Linked DNA regions of Homo sapiens: regions 2 and 3 are each linked to region 1. Evidence: fine-mapped expression QTL. A gene starts in region 1. Each other region holds a variant in brackets. All regions are shown on one strand. Distances are from middle to middle. Region 1 holds the start of ATP2C2-AS1 (ATP2C2 antisense RNA 1). Region 2 overlaps MEAK7 (MTOR associated protein MEAK7). Region 3 overlaps COTL1 (coactosin like F-actin binding protein 1).

What was found.
Region 2: its variant is fine-mapped to the expression of ATP2C2-AS1 in esophagus mucosa (GTEx, PIP 0.98).
Region 3: its variant is fine-mapped to the expression of ATP2C2-AS1 in neutrophils (BLUEPRINT, PIP 0.95).

Annotation. Positions count from the first base shown.
Region 1 is chr16:84,465,392-84,469,391 of GRCh38, reverse strand. It overlaps ATP2C2-AS1 (ATP2C2 antisense RNA 1), which reads left to right and starts at 2,031. Exons shown (of 3, transcript NR_146503.1): 1 at 2,031-2,088.
Region 2 is chr16:84,500,276-84,504,275 of GRCh38, reverse strand. All of the region lies in intron 1 of MEAK7 (MTOR associated protein MEAK7), which reads left to right. Among named protein-coding and RNA genes, the nearest start is that of MEAK7, 2.4 kb to the left of the region's middle. RefSeq lists an enhancer at 1-207. The variant G/A (reference allele first, on the strand shown) is at 1,816.
Region 3 is chr16:84,565,310-84,569,469 of GRCh38, reverse strand. COTL1 (coactosin like F-actin binding protein 1) reads left to right here. Exons shown (of 4, transcript NM_021149.5): 4 at 2,515-3,874. The coding sequence ends at 2,625. Among named protein-coding and RNA genes, the nearest start is that of COTL1, 51 kb to the left of the region's middle. The variant A/G (reference allele first, on the strand shown) is at 2,481.

The DNA.
Region 1 (4,000 bases):
CTAAATTTCGTGTTTTTTGTAGAGGTGGTTTCGCCATGTTGCCCAGGTTGGTCTCAAACCCCTGAGCTCAAGCAATCCACCCACCACAGCCTCCCAAAGTGCTGGGATTCCAGGCATGAACCACCGTTCCAGGCCTCTTACTGACCTCTTTTATCCAGTAGTTCTCCCCGCTTGAGCATGCATCAGATTTGCCTAGAGAGCTTCTTAAAATGCATATTGCAGGTCTGCATTCCTGCTTCTGATGATGTAGGTGAGGATGGGATTAACTCTTGACAACCTTATCCATTTCTTTTACCATTGGATTGTTTTAAATCTCTGCTGGAAGTCTTCAAATTACTTTATGTAATATTGACCCCAAAGTATTGAAACTCTTTTGTAGTTATGTTTTTTTTCCTTTTCTTGTGTTTTCATTTTCCTAGATTGGATTCAGTTACTAATTTTGCTTTTATATTATTCCTGCTTTTCTTCAGTTTTTTTTTTTCAGTTTTTTGAGTTATTTTACTAAATAAAAAATAATGGAAGTAGATGAATACATAAAGCTATTACTTTTTTCTTGGGCCCTGAGTTATTTTGCAGTATTGTATAGATAGGTGTGTGTTGATCATAAGCTTCTAGATTTTCTGTGGCCTTCATTTTGATTTTCTCTTGTACCCAAGAGTTTTTAAATTTTGCTGTGCTAGAGAATTTCCCCTAGTCCTGTCACTCGTCTTTAAATTAGATTGCATAGTGATTAGAGATGTCATCTGTATTATTATTTTTTTAAGACAGAGCCTCACTTCATTGCCCAGGCTGGAGTGCCATGGTGTGATCTCAGCTCACTGCTACCTCTGCCTCCCAGGTTCAAGCGATTCTCCTGCCTCAGCCTCCCGAGTAGCCTGGGATTACAGGCGCCCACCACCATGCCCAGCTAATTTTTGTATTTTTAGTAGAGATGGGGTTTCGCTATGTTGCCCAGGCTGGTCTCAAACTCCTTACCTCAAGTGATCCAACCGCCTCGGCCTCCCAAAGTTCTGGGATTACAGGTCTGAGCCACCATGCCCGACCAAGAAGTCATCTATATTAGATCTACTCTTTGGAATCACTGAGGTTTTGTGTCCTTTCATGTGGTAAGTTAATATAATGAATTTTCTGTATCCTTTGCCTGAATTTCCCATACTGTTTCCTCTTTAAATTTGAATGTTGTGTTGGTACATAGTCTGGCCTATGGATTTTTCAGTGGTGATTATATCTTGTTAAATTTCCTTCTTGGTCTCCTTTAATGCTTTTGGCCTTTCTTTTAATCTTGTCTGATTAGACTGTGTCACCTTGGTCTTGTGTGTTGTTTGTCTTTACCTGGTGTATTTTTGCCCTATGAGTATATCTTATCTTCTTACACACTTTGAAATAATTTTAGATTCATATAGACTTCCAAAAATTGTACAGGAGTTTCTGTCACTCCATGAGTGAGTGGATAAAGAAATTGTGGTACATCCATGCAGTGGAATACTAGTCAGCCATGAAGAAGAACACACATAAAACAACTTGAAGGGACCTTACAGGTATTATGCTTAGTGACAAAAGCCAGTCTTAAAAGGTTCTATACCATGATTCCATTTATGTAACAGTATTGAAGGAACAACATTATGGTGATGAAGAAGGGATTAGAGGTTGCTGGGATTAGGAGGGTGTTACTATAAAAAGTAAGGAGGAGTTTTTCAGGGGCGATGGAAGTTTTGCCTCCTCATTGTAGCAGTGGTTACCTGAATTGATGTGTGTCATACAATTTCATAGAACTTGTGTTGTGGGGGGCAGGAAACCACTCTCAGACCCAGTGATTGGCTAGAAAGACTCAGGACTCAGAAACTGTTGAGCTCAGAGGGAGAGGGTGACCAGTCTCTGCAGTTGCAGCCCTGGGGCTGTTCTAATCTGTATCTTTTCCTGGTAATAGACATGGCTGTGAGCATGACAGGTGTCAGTGAGCTCTGTGTGCCTCATCAACGAATCATCCAACCTGAAGGTGGTTGTGGGAAACTCTTGGACCTGCAGTCAGTATCAGAAGGCCTGGGCAGACTTGGCCAGCCACCTGGAGCACTGTGCCCTTAAACTCAGGTTTGCCTAACATCAGATACTATGTAAAAACCAGTGAAATTGAAATAGGTCTGCTGATAACAATATCATACCAAGCTTGTTAGAACAAGTTTATCTGTGTCTTAAAAAAAAACAAAAACAAAAAAACCCTGGGATTTTGATGGTAATTGTGTTAAACCTAATACAACAATCTCGGGAGAATTGATACTTTTTTTTGAGACAGACAAATAGTATTCAATTTTAAATTTCAGTTTCCAGTTGTTCATTGCTAATATATAGAAATACGACTGCTTTTTGTGTGTTAACCTTGTATCTTGTGGCTTTACTAAACTCGTTGATTCTACGAGGGTTTTTCTTTTTTAAAAAGATTTGTTGGGATTTTCTGTGTGGACAATTACGTTATCTGTGATTTTCTCCTTTCCAGGCTCTTTGCTAATGCCTTTTAACTTTTCTTGCCATATTACACTGGCTAGGACTTCTAATACTGTGCTGAATAGGAGTGGTGAGGCTGGTCACCCTTGGACCTTATCCTGTGGGGAAAGAATTCAGTTTTTCATCATTAAGTATGATGTTAGCTATAGGTTTTTTGTAGATGTTCTTTATCAGGTTGAAGAAGTTTCCTTCAATTCCTAGTTTGAGAGTTTTTATTACAAATGGAGATTGAATTTTATCAAATGCCTTTTCTGCATTAATTGATATAACCATGTGTTTTTCCTTCTTCAGACTATTAATATAGTGAGTTATATTGGTTTTTGAATGTTGAACTTTTCAGTTATATTGGTTTTGAATGTTGAACTTTGGAATGCTTGAATTCCATTCCTCAATTAACCCCACTTCGTCCTGGTGTCTTATATTCTTCGTACCTGGCTAGATCTGATTTCCTCATATTTTGTTGAGGATTTTCGTGCATATATTCATAAGGGATGTTGGTCTCTAGTATTTTTCTCTAGTTTTGGTATCAGAGTGATTGTTGACCTTATAAAATGAGAAGTGCTCGGTCCCCTTTTATTTTTGGAATTCAGTGTATCGAATTGCCATTTCTTTACAAGTTTAGTAAAATTCACCAGTGAAATCATCTGGCTTCAGAAACTGCCTTTTTTGGAAGGGTTTCAACTTCAGCTTATCTATTTAATCTTCAGTGAGTTTTGGTAGTTTTTGGTTTTCAAGCAATTGGTTTATTTCATCCAATTGATTGAATTTAGGTACATAAAGATGTACATAGTATTATTTATTATTATTGTTGGAATATCTTGAAGGGTTTGTGGTGATATACTTTTTCATTCCTGACATTGGTCATTTCTCTTCCCTTTTTTCTTTGATAAGCTTATTGCAAGACTGATAGTTTTATTGATCTCTTCGAAAAACTAGGTTTTGATTGATTTTCCTCTATTTTTGCTTTTTCGTTTGATTTCTGCTCTTTATTTTGGTGACTGTTTCTATGCTACTCGTGAATGGGGTGTTCTACAAGTGTAAATCAAGCTAAGTTGCTTAATGGTGGTGTTCAAGTCTACTGTGTCCTTAATGAAAAGAAGGTCTTAGTTTTAATGTAGTCTAATTTATATTTTATTGTTAGCATTTTGTGTCTTACTACAGTTTTATCCCTAAAGTTTACATAAGCAAGAGTTCAGAGTAATCGACCCTGGTATTTTGATTACTTAATTTTAAATGGGAAGTAAATGTCTCGGGCCAGCAGTGTGCCCAAGGATCCTGAAAAGTAGAGCAAGAATTGTCCCTGACTCAGGGGGAGGCACTCCTTAGCAGACTGTGGAAGTGGCACACTTCAGCCTTGACCTCTTAGTGGTTCCAGGGGTTGGCAGCTTCTAGGAAGACAGCCCCACAGCTCAAAAGGTTTCTTCTCCAGCCAGCCCTGTGTCTGTGTCTCACTAGGAATGGCCCATCGCTGCATCTCCTCCTGTGGCCCTGGTGTCACAGG
Region 2 (4,000 bases), 35 kb before region 1:
GAGCCTGTGTAGACGCGGAAAGGGAGGGGTGCCTCCACGGAGGAGGCGAGTCTGGGGTAGACACTGAAGTGTGTGTGGAGGGGGTTTTCCTTCTTGTATTCTGACCACACCCATCTGGGCTTTTCCAGGACAGTGAGCTGATAACTGTTCCCAGGCCATGTAGGTGGCCAGCACAGGACAGGTCACCTTCTGGCCCACAGGAACTTCTTGCCCAGGCTCAAGCTGCCCCTTCGCACAAGGGCCTCTGGGCTCTGAGACACAGACAGGACTTCGAAGCCTGTCCAGATGAGGCAGTTGGAATCTCCCCAGCTTGTGGGGGTACGGAGGGACCCTTGTGTGGCTCTAGGGATGCGGGGCCCTTGGAGTAGAGAGTTGGAGCTTGGCAGCCAGGGTGGGAAGCAGCCATGTAACAGCCTGTTGGAGAAGCTCTGAGCAGGAGGTGACTAAGCCATTCCTAGGATACTAGTGGGAACCTTGGGGGCCATCCTGCAGACAATCGGTCCCTGTCCACCCCTCCATCACGGAGGCAGAGCAACCTTCCGTTTCTTCCAAGCAGGGCAGTTTCTCTTGTTCTAAGACAAGATCCCAAGGAGCCATTCTCTGTTGTCTTGGGCCCATTATTCTGTCTCTGACCTCCAGTAAGCAGATCAAATGCCCTGGGTTACCTTATTTAATCTTCTCAACCTTATGTTAAAGAAATTAATTAATGATGCTTATTAAAAGCACATTAATTATTGAAGACCATTGCAATGGGTATAGGGACCACAGCAATGGGATTTTGTAGTAAAGGAGAGAGATTGGGCTCAACTCTGATTATAGCATGGGCAAGTGGGAAGCCAGGAAGCAGGGTGGGGATCAGTGGATGGAAGATGACTGAGGAAACATCAGGGCGCTAGGGTGGATTCTGGGTAAGCTTACCTAGCAGTTTGTTACTGAAGGCAGGCCAGGGTGATCAGACATCACCTAGGGCAAGCTCGTCCAACCCGTGGGCCATATGTGGCCTAAGGCGGCTTTGAATGACATCCAACACAAATTCATAAGCTTTCTTAAAACATGAGATTTTTTTTTTACCATATATGTAGATATATGCACTTATCAGTTATTGTTAGTGGGTTTTATGTGTGGCCCAAGACAGTTCTTCCAGTGTGGCCCAGGGAAACTGAAAGATTGGATATCCCTAACCTAAGCATTAAACCTGGTTAGATAGCAAGTGAACAGATAATGGTGATCAAATATCAAGGATGAGTGGTTTTGTGGGTTTTTTTGTTTGTTTGTTTTTTGTTTTGCTAAAACCAGATTTTACAAAGAGGTACACAGATGGGCCCAGGAGCCTGACTAAAGTCTGGTCAAGCAAAACATCTTGGTCACTTATTATGGGCTGCTGGAACTTTTGTTTGTGTTTTTATGAGACAGAGTCTTGCTCTGTCACCCAGGCTGGAGTGCACTGTTGTGATCTTGGCTCACTGCGACCTCTGCCTCCTGGTTCAAGCGATCTTCCCACCTCAGCCTCCTGAATAGCTGGAACTATAGTCACACGCCACCACACCCGGCTGAGGTTTGTATTTTTGGCAGAGACGAAGTCTCACTATGTTGCCCAGGCTGGTCTCAAACTCCTGGCCTCAAATGATCCTCCCAAAGTTCTGGGATTATAGGCTTGATGATGGAAAGCTTTCAGTCCCTGGCAAGTTTTCTCGGTGTCATGGGACTTTCACAGTACACCTGGGTACATGGGGTGGCCTCTTCTCTGCAAAGCTGTGCATAACACAACCCTACATTGGCCTCGAGACTTCTGTGGGTTCCCTTGTATCAAGTTCC[G/A]CTTCCATTTTGTTCCGCTGCCCTACATCCTCAGAAGCCAGGTTTTCTCACCTTCAGCCCTACCGATGTCTGGGACGGACACTTCCTCGTCGTAAGGCCATCCTGTGCACTGTAGGATTTTTAGCAGTATCCCTGGCCTCTGCCTGCTAGATGCCAACGGCACTCCCCTCCCCCAGTTGTGGCAACCACACACTTTTCCAGTCATTGCCAAATGCCCCTGGGGGACGAAACTGCTCCAGTCGAGCTCCACTGGTACAAGCAACCTTGATGTGCGCTGTCAGCACCAGCACCAGCGTGCATTGTCTTTTTTTTTTTTGAGACCGAGTTTCACTCTTGTTGCCCAGGCTGGAGTGCAATGGCATGATCTTGGCTCATTGCAACCTCCGCCCCCTGGGTTCAAGCAATTCTCCTGCCTCAGCCTCTCAAGTAGCTGGGATTACAGGCATGCACCACCACACCCGGTTAATTTTGTATTTTTAGTAGAGACAGGGTTTCTCCATGTTGGTCCAGCTAGTCTCGAACTCCCGACCTCAGGAGATCCACCCGCCTCGGCCTCCCAAAGTGCTGGGATTACAGGCGTGAGCCACCACACCATTGCCATTTCTTTATCTTGCCTGGCACGGGGCTCTCAAAGGAGACGGGCTGTCCTTGAGCCGTTCTGAGACGTGTCCCTTCACCAGCACTCTGCAGGTACTAAGAATGGCAGTGCTGTGGACAGCGCTGTGTTCTTAGGGGCTGCCCACCTTCCCACCTCACTGGCACCAGCCCTGGGGTTCCTACTGGGGCCTCCCATGCAACCTCCTCTCTCCTGCTTGAAAAAGTGGCGTTGCCAGCCTGGCTCTGCGTCCAAGCCTTTCCTGTCATCTCCTGGGCCTGCCCTGGTCTGCGCCGCTTCTGTGCATTTCTGGGTTCCTGTCCTGCCTGTTGGCACTTGCCCAGCCCTGCACCTTTCTCCCGGCTGTCTGGGGTTGGTGAGGGCTGGCCAGGCTGCACCCTGCTGCTGTTCTCCGACCACAGTGGGGGAGCCTGTTTCTGGCAGAAAGTGGGAGTTGGGGTGGGATGGAAGTGAGGGGCTGGGTGGAGTCAGGCCTGGGCCCCCTTCTGCTGCAGCCCTCTGCTGCCCTCCCCCACGTGCCCTGAGTTCCACCCTTGCCTCGCTGATCCCAACGCTCTTGCTTATGCCCCGTGCGTGCTGTTCCCACTTCCTGGTGAATCACCTGTGAGTCTCTGAAGACTCAGCTGGAATGTGACCTTTGGGACCTTTTCCACTCTTCACTCTTCTTGTTACACCCCCAGGCCACACCCATCCCCATGCCCTTGTCTCTGTTTCCCCTCTTTTTTTTTTTTTTTTTTTTCTTTTTTTTTTTGAGACGAGTCTAACTCTGTTGCCCAGGCTGGAGTGTAGTGGCGTGGTCTCGGCTCACTGCGACTTCCGCTGTCCGTGTTCAACCAATTCTTCTGCCTCAGCCTCCCAAGTAGCTGGGATTACAGGTGCACAGCACCATGCCTGGCTAATTTTTTTGTATTTTTAGTAGAGATGGGGTTTCATGTCGTTGGCCAACCTAGTTTCGAACTCCTGACCTCAGGAGATGGTGTGGCCCACCTTGCAGGCTCTTCGAGTTGATGCAGAGGGTGGGTCTGCTTTGTTTTGGCTGCTTGGGCTGTGTCCCTGCAGCACCCAGACTCAGCCGGTGCAGCCCCTCTGTTTCAGAGCTGGGGACAGCCGCCTGCCGCTGGACATTGAGTCCAGGCTGGAGGTTTTCCTTCTGGGCTCTTCTGCTGCTGCGAAACGTGAGGAGTGGAAGCGGTGAGATCAGATGGGGCGTGGGTGAGCACCCAAACGGGGTCGGGTAAGCCCTCGTTTCCAGCCTGTCTGTGTAAAGTGCACCCCCATCCCCTTCCAAGGAGCCCCCCAGTGGAGACTTCCTGTGCAGAGGGGCACATTAGCAGTGAGGCCTGTTAAAGGCCCATCCGCTGCGAAGATGGGTGTCATATAAAAGGCGGAGAAATAACTCGCTTTAGTGGGGGTGTGGATAGATGGAAGCTCATGCTTTACTGATGGGATTATAGAGTGGAGAGCACTTGGCGGCCCCTCAGAATGTTAAACAGAATTACCATGTGACCCAGCAAGTCCACTCCTAGGTGTCGACACTGGAAATTGGAACAGGGGGACTCAGGTACTCAG
Region 3 (4,160 bases), 100 kb before region 1:
GCATTGTCTTTTTATTGTAAAGCTTGACTTCGGGATGCTCCTGGGCTCATCATTCTTGGCAATATGGCGACTTTTTTGTTTTTTATTTTTTAATTGTGGTGGAATTCATTTAACATAAAATGAACCTTTTTATGTTTATTTATTTATTTTGAGACAGATCTCACCCTGTCGCCCAGGCTGGAGTGCAGTGGCGCGATCTTGGCTCACTGCAACGTCCGCCTCCCGGGTTCAAGCGATTCTCCTGCCTCAGCCTCCCCAGTAGCTGGGATTGCAGGCGCCCGCCACCACGCCCGGCTGATTTTTGTAGTTTTAGTAGAGATGGGGTTCCGCCATGTTGGCCAGGCTGGTCTCGAACTCCTGACCTCAGGTGATCTGCCTGCCTCGGCCTCCAAAGTGCTGGGATGACGGGCGTGAGCCACCGCACCTGGCCTGAACCATTTTAAAGTGTACAATTCAGTGGCTTTCAGAACATTCACAGTGTTGTGCAAGCCCTACCTCTGTCTGGTTCCAAAACTTTTTCATCACCCCAAAAGGAGATGGTGGCTCTTTCAAGACGCCAGCTTTGGCATCAACTGGACCTTCTGGTTGTCTGACTTCGGACAAGCATTGTAATTTCCAGCCTTTGTTTCCTCACCTTTAAAATGGAAATAATGTTGATCACCTTACGGGCCTTTTTAAAAAGAACTTGATTGAGGTATGATGTATGTACCTCAAAATCAAGTCATCCTAAGTGTACTTTTTCAGTACTTTTTCGTGAATTTGTGGAGTTGTGCACCCATTACCACAATCCCAATTTTAGAACGTCTCTATCATTTCCTGTTCCCATCTCCAGCTCTGTGTAACCACGAGTCTGCTTTCTGTCTGTATGGGTTTGCCTTTTTTAGACATTTATACCAATGGCAGCTGACAGTACATGGTCTTCATGCCTGGCTTCTTTCACTCAGCATCCTGTTTCCGAGGTTCATCCATGTAGTTGCGTGTGGCAGCGCTTCATTCCTCTCTGTGGCTGAGGAATATTCCATTGTGTGGACGGACCGTGTTTTGATAATCCACTCCTCTGTTGATGGACATAGGGGTTGCTTCCACCTTCCATGATTCATATTTACTACTGTGTGTCATTCTCAGTACTGTGGCACTGTGCTGGTACACATAAGTGCTTAATAATTGTGGTTAGCCGGGCGTGGTGGCTCACGCCTGTAGTGCCAACACCTTGGGAGGCCAAGCTGGGCGGATCACTTAAGGCCAGGAGTTTGAGACCAGCCTGGCCAATGTGGCGAAACCCTGCTTCTACTAAAAATACAAAAAATAGCTGGGTGTGGTGGCAGACGCCTGTAGTTCGAGCTACTTGGGAGGCTGAGACATGAGAATGGCTTGAACCCTGGGGGCAGAGGTTGCTGTGAGCCAAGATTGCGCCACTGCACTCCAGCCTGGGCAACAGGCTTTTCTCTCAAGAAAAAGAAAAATGGTGGTCATTGTTTATGTTATTTCCTTATGGGCTTTTTTTTTTAATGTGGATGATTTTCTTACCTTTAGACGTGTTATTTGTGGTTTTGATAGCTTTTTTTTGTCAAGCTGTCCGTCATCGTTCTGAAATTTTGTTTGTTAAAGTCTTATGATCCACATATGGCAGTAACTGTGTATCATCATGGCTTAAGGGTGTCTGATAAGCCAGGTCACCTGGTTCCCTCATTCATGCCACAAGCGTTTACTGAGTGCATCATGGGTGCCTGCGGGTTCTATGGGTGAAACCTGTGTACTGCAAGAGGAAAGACTGACTGCATCCATTTTGCTGAGCCCTGTAGCCCCACAGCCTGGCGTGGTATTTGTTGAAAGAAGGCAGAGCCTCTACCCTCGTGTAACTCAGTGCGGGTGGAGAGCCCATGGCAGACCCAGGACTGGAGGCTCCTGCGTCATTAGGAACATTGGTGGCTGAAGCTTGCTTGTCCCAGCTGGCGAGAGCCAATTACGCCTGTCTCCTTCCACCTCCACGTATGGTGACATCACTTTGATAGCTTGACGTCAGCCACTGGGGGACTATTTACATCATGGATATGGGCAAAAGACACCAATCTGAGCTTTTGTCCTTTTCTTTTTTTTGGAGTGCCTGCACACCCGTGAGCCTTTCCAACCTCGTAACCTATTATTTTCCTGACGAGATAGTTTTTTACAGATGAGAAAGTTGAGGCACAGAGAATTGAAGGGACTTGGCCAAGGTAACAGCCCAAATTCAAGCCCCAGCTTCCTCGGGCCATCCCCACGGACATGGGAAGACGCAGCATCAGATCTGCCCCACTCCCTCCTCCCAGTCAGGTTTTTTCTGCCAGATGACTCTGCTGTTCAATTTCCATTGACTCTGCTGCTGAATTTCCATTGACTGACTCTGCTGCTGAATTTCCATTTCCATCTCTCATCAGGGTTTTCAGTGCTTTGCTTCCCAGTGTGTTGCCTGAGCCACCCTCACATCCTGTGCCTTCCTTCTT[A/G]ATAGGAACGCTGTGTTTTCCTTTGTTCTTGCAGAATTTCGCTAAGGAGTTTGTGATCAGTGATCGGAAGGAGCTGGAGGAAGATTTCATCAAGAGCGAGCTGAAGAAGGCGGGGGGAGCCAATTACGACGCCCAGACGGAGTAACCCCAGCCCCCGCCACACCACCCCTTGCCAAAGTCATCTGCCTGCTCCCCGGGGGAGAGGACCGCCGGCCTCAGCTACTAGCCCACCAGCCCACCAGGGAGAAAAGAAGCCATGAGAGGCAGCGCCCGCCACCCTGTGTCCACAGCCCCCACCTTCCCGCTTCCCTTAGAACCCTGCCGTGTCCTATCTCATGACGCTCATGGAACCTCTTTCTTTGATCTTCTTTTTCTTTTCTCCCCCTCTTTTTTGTTCTAAAGAAAAGTCATTTTGATGCAAGGTCCTGCCTGCCATCAGATCCGAGGTGCCTCCTGCAGTGACCCCTTTTCCTGGCATTTCTCTTCCACGCGACGAGGTCTGCCTAGTGAGATCTGCATGACCTCACGTTGCTTTCCAGAGCCCGGGCCTATTTTGCCATCTCAGTTTTCCTGGACCCTGCTTCCTGTGTACCACTGAGGGGCAGCTGGGCCAGGAGCTGTGCCCGGTGCCTGCAGCCTTCATAAGCACACACGTCCATTCCCTACTAAGGCCCAGACCTCCTGGTATCTGCCCCGGGCTCCCTCATCCCACCTCCATCCGGAGTTGCCTAAGATGCATGTCCAGCATAGGCAGGATTGCTCGGTGGTGAGAAGGTTAGGTCCGGCTCAGACTGAATAAGAAGAGATAAAATTTGCCTTAAAACTTACCTGGCAGTGGCTTTGCTGCACGGTCTGAAACCACCTGTTCCCACCCTCTTGACCGAAATTTCCTTGTGACACAGAGAAGGGCAAAGGTCTGAGCCCAGAGTTGACGGAGGGAGTATTTCAGGGTTCACTTCAGGGGCTCCCAAAGCGACAAGATCGTTAGGGAGAGAGGCCCAGGGTGGGGACTGGGAATTTAAGGAGAGCTGGGAACGGATCCCTTAGGTTCAGGAAGCTTCTGTGTAAGCTGCGAGGATGGCTTGGGCCGAAGGGTTGCTCTGCCCGCCGCGCTAGCTGTGAGCTGAGCAAAGCCCTGGGCTCACAGCACCCCAAAAGCCTGTGGCTTCAGTCCTGCGTCTGCACCACACATTCAAAAGGATCGTTTTGTTTTGTTTTTAAAGAAAGGTGAGATTGGCTTGGTTCTTCATGAGCACATTTGATATAGCTCTTTTTCTGTTTTTCCTTGCTCATTTCGTTTTGGGGAAGAAATCTGTACTGTATTGGGATTGTAAAGAACATCTCTGCACTCAGACAGTTTACAGAAATAAATGTTTTTTTTGTTTTTCAGAAAACAGTTTGGTTTCTGATTTGTCCTACAAAGTTCTTTTTTTTTTTTTGCTGTAATAACAGAGGCAGTCATCATCGCCTTCAGATTTAATAGGTGTTTGCGGAGCTGCTGAGGCGGGGCACATTCACATTCAATTGCTTATTTAATTCTTAGCAACCATAAGAAACAGGTGCTGCTTTTGTCCCCATTTCCTGAAATCTGAGGCTCAGAGGGATTCATTCACCCGAGGTCACCCAGATAGAAAGTGGCAGAGCTGGGATTTTTTTTTTTTTTTTTTTTGGTGACAGAGT